Homo sapiens: one gene and its partner. The protein of the gene in region 1 interacts with the protein of each later gene in a biochemical or structural test. Each region holds a gene or a part of one and is shown in the gene's direction. Other genes may lie near its edges.

What was found. The genes of interacting proteins can lie anywhere in the genome.
Region 2: the proteins of PIP5K1C (region 1) and ITGB1 form a complex in vitro, tested with the Homo sapiens proteins (one study listed by BioGRID).

What each region holds. Positions count from the first base shown.
Region 1 is NC_000019.10:3,632,076-3,634,468, reverse strand, and holds part of PIP5K1C (phosphatidylinositol 4-phosphate 5-kinase type-1 gamma), read left to right. Parts: intron 1-688; coding exon of another isoform or gene 689-709; exon of another isoform or gene 710-773; intron 774-948; coding exon 949-1,032; intron 1,033-1,299; coding exon 1,300-1,302; 3' UTR 1,303-2,393. UniProt on the Homo sapiens protein: Catalyzes the phosphorylation of phosphatidylinositol 4-phosphate (PtdIns(4)P/PI4P) to form phosphatidylinositol 4,5-bisphosphate (PtdIns(4,5)P2/PIP2), a lipid second messenger that regulates several cellular processes such as signal transduction, vesicle trafficking, actin cytoskeleton dynamics, cell adhesion, and cell motility.
Region 2 is NC_000010.11:32,903,025-32,906,230, reverse strand, and holds part of ITGB1 (integrin beta-1 isoform 1A precursor), read left to right. Parts: intron 1-3,206.

The sequences.
Region 1 (2,393 bases):
CAGGCCTGGTGGAAATTCGCAGGTCATCTGTGCCGGGAGGGGCGTTGAAGGCTGGGTTGGTGACAGAGGCCCGAGAGAGAGGAGGACACAACAAGGAAGACAGGGCGGCCAGGCTGGAGCCCTGAGAAAGCAGAGCAGCCTAGGGGCAGGAGAAGCAGGGGGAGCTTGAGGGGGTGGGGGCTCCTCAGGAGGCGGGACGGAGGTGTTGGAGGAACGCACCCTCCCTCCCTCCCCAGATCCCACCCAGACCTGGGACCCCTCACGCAGGCACAGCTGGGAAGAGCTGTCCGTGTCCCTGCACACGGCCCTGCCTGTGCCTAGCCCTGAACTTGGCCCTCACTCTGCCCTGCTGCTCAGGAAGGCGTCTCCTGGCTCTTGCAGGGTGGGTGGTCCGAGCCTCAGTCTCTCCTAGCACGTCTGTGCTGGCAGAGGGGACTGGCCCTGCCCGCAGGCAGCCATATATTCAGGTCCCAAAAGGCTTCTGGGTTGGGAAGTAGGTCCGGCACCCCGACCTCCCAGGACCCCCATAGAGAGCTTCCAGGAGCCTGTGCGCTGGTGCCCGTGGCACAGGCAGGATTGGGGGCTGTGGTGGGGCCGGGCTGTGGAGGAGGAGGAGGAGGAGGAACACTCGGTGCTCCAGGTCGCGACCCCCACCCGCTTCCGCCGGCTCTGTCACCTGCTATCTCAGGCCCTGCCTCGACTGAACTAACTGCTTTCTGCCGCCCGCCGTGCCCCGCCCCGCCAAGCTGAGCTGAGGCCCCAGGCCCGTCCAGGTTGGGAGCAAGTCCACCGGGTCAGAGAGGGCAGCTGGGCTGAGCCACCCCTCGTCTTCCATGGGGGATTCGCCTCTTTTATGTTCTCCTGTCTCTTCCTTCCTCCCTCTGCCTCTCTTGCACCTCCTCGCACCCTGCTCTTCCGCGCCCTCCTGCACGCGCGCCCACCTGCCAGCCCACCGATGAGAGGAGCTGGGTGTACTCCCCGCTCCACTATAGCGCCCAGGCCCCCCCGGCCTCCGACGGCGAGAGCGACACAGTAAGTGCAGCCCAGGTGCACCCGCCGGTCCCGTGGGCTCCAAGGTTCTACTGAGCGTGGTCCCCAGCTACTGGGATAGGCAGGGACTGAGGCCCGGGGCGGGAGGGCACAGGTGGCCCAGAGCTCCACCCTGGGCTCTCTGGCTCTGAGGTGGCCGTGGGCTAAGTGTCTCAGGGCCTGTGTTGGCCCAAGGAAGCCAGTCCCTGGCAGGGGGCCTGGGGTGGGCCCTCGCCCCGCCCACCTTCACCTGTCCTCTTGCTCTTGCAGTAATTTCTATGCAGCCCCCGACCCAGAGCCGAGCTCCACTTCTGCTCCGGCTGCCCCCGAAGGCGCTGCCCACCCCGCTGAGGCCCAGAGCTCGGGAGATGCCCGCCTCGCCGCCCCACCGGACCTCGTCCTCCCCCTGCACGGATGCCGACGGCCGGGCCCCTCCCCGACAAGCCTCCCAGGGCCCCGGCACCCCGGTCGGCAGCCTGCCCCTGTGAGACCCACCCTCCCGAGCGGCCAATCGCATTTGAGTCCTTATTTGGCACAGAGACGGAAGCACGTGTGTGCCGTTTTAGGAAAAGAACAAAAAAGACACAAACAAACCAACCAGAGGGAGAAGAGCCCCTGCCCACTGCACTCTTTGGTTCTCTGCTGTGCCTGCCTGTGTCCTGAGGAAGAAGCCAGGCTGTTCGCGGTGGCCTCTGGGGACCTGAGCCCCGGGGGCCCCATCGGCCTGCAGAGGGGACGGCTGGGGTCCCGAGCAACTCTGCCTCCATCCACGTGGGAAGCGGACCCTCCTGCCCTCAGCTTGGGTTTGGGGGCCTCAGTGCAGGACATCTGGCCTGAACATCGACTGTGGGGACAGCCCTCGCCCTGCCAAGCACTGCGGCCACTCAGCAGCTATGTTCCCGCCGCAGTGGGGCCCTGACGCCCACCTCCCAGGTGCCCCTCGAGCAAAAACCTCTGGCGCCTCCAATCCAGACCCACCACAGCTGGAGGGCCAGGCCTCCTCTTCCCCAGGCTGCCACCCACGCTGGCGGAGCTCAGGGCTGGGGACTTGTCCTTCTCTTCCAACGTAGGCCACTCAGCAACTGGCATGGAGGGCCCAGGCAACGGAGACGTTTTCTCCATGGCAGGACAGAGCGGGAGGCCGGGCCTTGGGCCACAGGAGACCAGCTCAGGGCGGAAGGTCAGGCTCCCCGCCCCCTCCACGTGGAGACATGGCCTAGGGGGCCAGGCCCGGCTCCACAGGAGTCTCCTTCAGGACTGGTGTGGATGTCCGCCGCCTCTTTCTTGTTTAAGTGATGTGATGTCTCCGAGGAGGGGAGAGAAGACTTTGTTTCCGACTCATCACCCTCCAAGAGGGCAGCGCT
Region 2 (3,206 bases), on another chromosome or scaffold:
TTGCAAAATAGAAAAATATAACCTACTATGATATTTGTATGGTATGCAACTACAATATCATTATTGGTTCTCAAAAGATTTGAGATCAATTTCTTGAATATAACTTGAAATTTCATTAAAAGCCAGAAGACCATATATATGTATGTATATTATATATATATGTGTGTGTGTCTGTGTGTGTATGTGAGAATGATTCTAATTTTCAAATGTAAGTTTGTAACTGTTCATATCTGAATTTTCATGAAATGCTTCCAGCATATTCTAATAAAATCATGCAAGCCCCTAAAACTCTGATAACAAAGGTTAATTGTGATTAGAACTAAATTCTCCTGACTGGTGGTTGAGAACTCTTCTTCTCTTTCCCAACTGACTGACTGTAATAGGGCCTGGAAGATTTCTGCTTTTCTCACTGCCTACCTTATTGTGCAGATAAAGATGGTATTGGGAACACTTACATAAAAATCACTGTGTCTCAGGCATGATTCTGACCACTTAATCTGTGTTTAATCTTCATAGTGAAAGTTGTAGGAATGTTTTACATATGAGAAAACTGAGACACATAAGGGTTATGTAACTTGACCGAGTTCCCACGGCTGGTTAGTCAGAGAGCTGAGATTTGAACCCAGGCAGTTGGGCTCCAGAGTCCATGTTCTTGTCTATGACATTGTACTTGGTAGCAGTTATGTATCTTCAGAAGTCCCGTTACCTGGTTAGGAAGAGGTAGATCACTCTTTATAGAGATTTACAGCCCTTTTACAATTTGTTGTTACTCTGTCAGAGTTAACACTGCTGCTGTTGGCAAACATCATGTTAGGGAAATCACTTTAATACATGGAACCCAGTGCTGTTGTTGTGTTTTTTGACTATTGAGAGTGTGCTTACAAACTGATCATGAATAAGAGCCTACAGTACAGGAATGTTTAATAGTTACAAGTGATATAGGAAGTGCTGATAACATTAGAAATCATTAACTTGTCAGATTTTTATTTCTAAGTAGACCGTAAGATTTTTAAAGTTAAATTTGATGGCAGAAAATTATATTCAAATTCACATATGGGCAGGTTGGTACATATTTGTATTAGTCTGAGACAATATATTTTTCTCGTTCTCACTTAGTACTTTACAGAAAGTCATTTTTAGAGGAAAACTGATTAGCCAATGACATTGCCAGGCTTTTTTTTTTTTTTAATACATATTTTTTTCTTTAGTTGTAGGTCAAAAATAGTCAAATGTTGACAATTTCATGTGGTTATTTCTCACAAGAGAAAAAATTTCTGTCCTACTGAGGTGAAATTTTCACCCTTGCTGTACCTTTCATTGTATTTTGAAGGAAATTATCAGTAAATGTTATTTAAACTTAATGTTTATAATGTATATATGGCTAAAATGTTGCTAAAATAAGCATTTTATGTAATTCAGGAAGCAGAAGTTTGGTAAAAATTTCTCTATGCATTATTGAAGTCCAGGCAATTTGATGGCTACAGATTATTTTAAGAGATGTTTTTCTCAAGAAAAAGTAGAAATTAACAATTGAAATAAATGAATGAGCATCAAGAAATTACATCATGGATTGTAAGAAACTTTTCTGATATGGACCAAGGTTTGCCAGTCAATTATGTCATTGAAATTTTTGAAATAATGGGCAGGCGCTAATTACTTTGGCAGAAGACTACCATGTAGGAACATTAAGAAGAACATGTCACATTATCAGCTTCTAACTGTTGGAGTGGGTTAAAAAAATGGTCTGTCCTCATCTGCTGCTATGCGGGTTTAAATGTGGCTCCCAAATCTCCCACACTTCTGCATTATGTATTTAATACATTGTAGAGATGGTTCTGCAGCTACCACTGTCAGCCATTCCAGAGTGAGCACAAAGATGACATTTTACTGAGCTTGAGGGCTTCCTTTCATAATATAACCCTGTTCTCTTGCTGCGGGTTTTTTTGGGGTGGGGTGGTGTTGCACTCTGAATGATGGAAACTAATTTGAATTATTTTAGTTTACCTTCATTTAAAATGATGCCTAATACAGATAGTGAGCTTAATTTTACCTCTAACCTTGCATGTTAAACTTTTGTTTGAGTGGACTTTGAAATAATAAATACAAATGTTTGTGTATACGACAAGACAGATTTTTCTCCAAAGGTAAGTTCTTCCATATAAATTACACTTTGGACTCATCTATATAGGGCTTTTTTTCTTTATTTTTTGTTTTCTTTTTTTTTTTTGTCCTTCCCTTATAATTCTTGAGTATTAAATACTAGATTTAGCAAATATATTGTATTAAAGAAATTTAATTAGATGCTAATTTATTTTCCCAACATATTTGAAGGAATGTGTAGCACTTAGCCTCAAATCAGATAGGATATAAATGTGGAGTGTAATTTATTTGCACTCTGGCTTTTTAAGATAGTAGTTGCCAAAATCCAGTTTCCTGACCCCCATTTTGAAATGTCTGCTCTCACAGCTGTATAATGTATTAGCTTCAGTTGGGACTAGAGCTGAGAGTTTGATGTACACAGTTTTGTCATCCACATTATATGCTGTTTGTCTCTGAGGGATCCTGAGTTTGTCCATGTTTCTGAAACAACCAGTCAAGGTGTATTTTGAGGAGAGGGGAGTGAGGGCTGAGGTATGTTGTCTGGTTCTGATTGGTATCACATGAGCTGCTGAGCTGAAATCACAGTGGTTTATTTGGTGTCTTGCAGGACCCAGCCTTTATATGTTAATGTTTTTCCCTCATTGGTATGGGATACCTACAGGATGAAGTTTCAGACTTCATAGCAAGGCCTCTAGGACTGTTCTTCCTTTGTCTCCTCACCTCCAATCATATGCCCCCTTAATTCTTTTTTTTCCTCTTTTTTTTTTTTTTTTTTTTTTGAGATGGAGTCTTGCTCTTTCGCCCAGTCTGGAGTGCAGTGGTGCGATCTCAGCTCACTACAATCTCCGCTTCCCGGGTTCAAGTGATTCCCCTATCCCAGCTTCATGAGTAGCTGGGATTACAGGCACCCGCCACCACACCCAGCTAATTTTTGTATTTTTAGTAGAGACGGGGTTTTACCGTGTTGGCCAGGCTGATCTCAAACTCCTCACCAAAAGTGATCCACCCACCTCGGCCTCTCAAAGTTCTGGGATTACAGGCATGAGCCACCGCGCCTGCCCTCCCCTAACTCTAGAAACTTCTGAACTGTATGTATTTCTACTTAA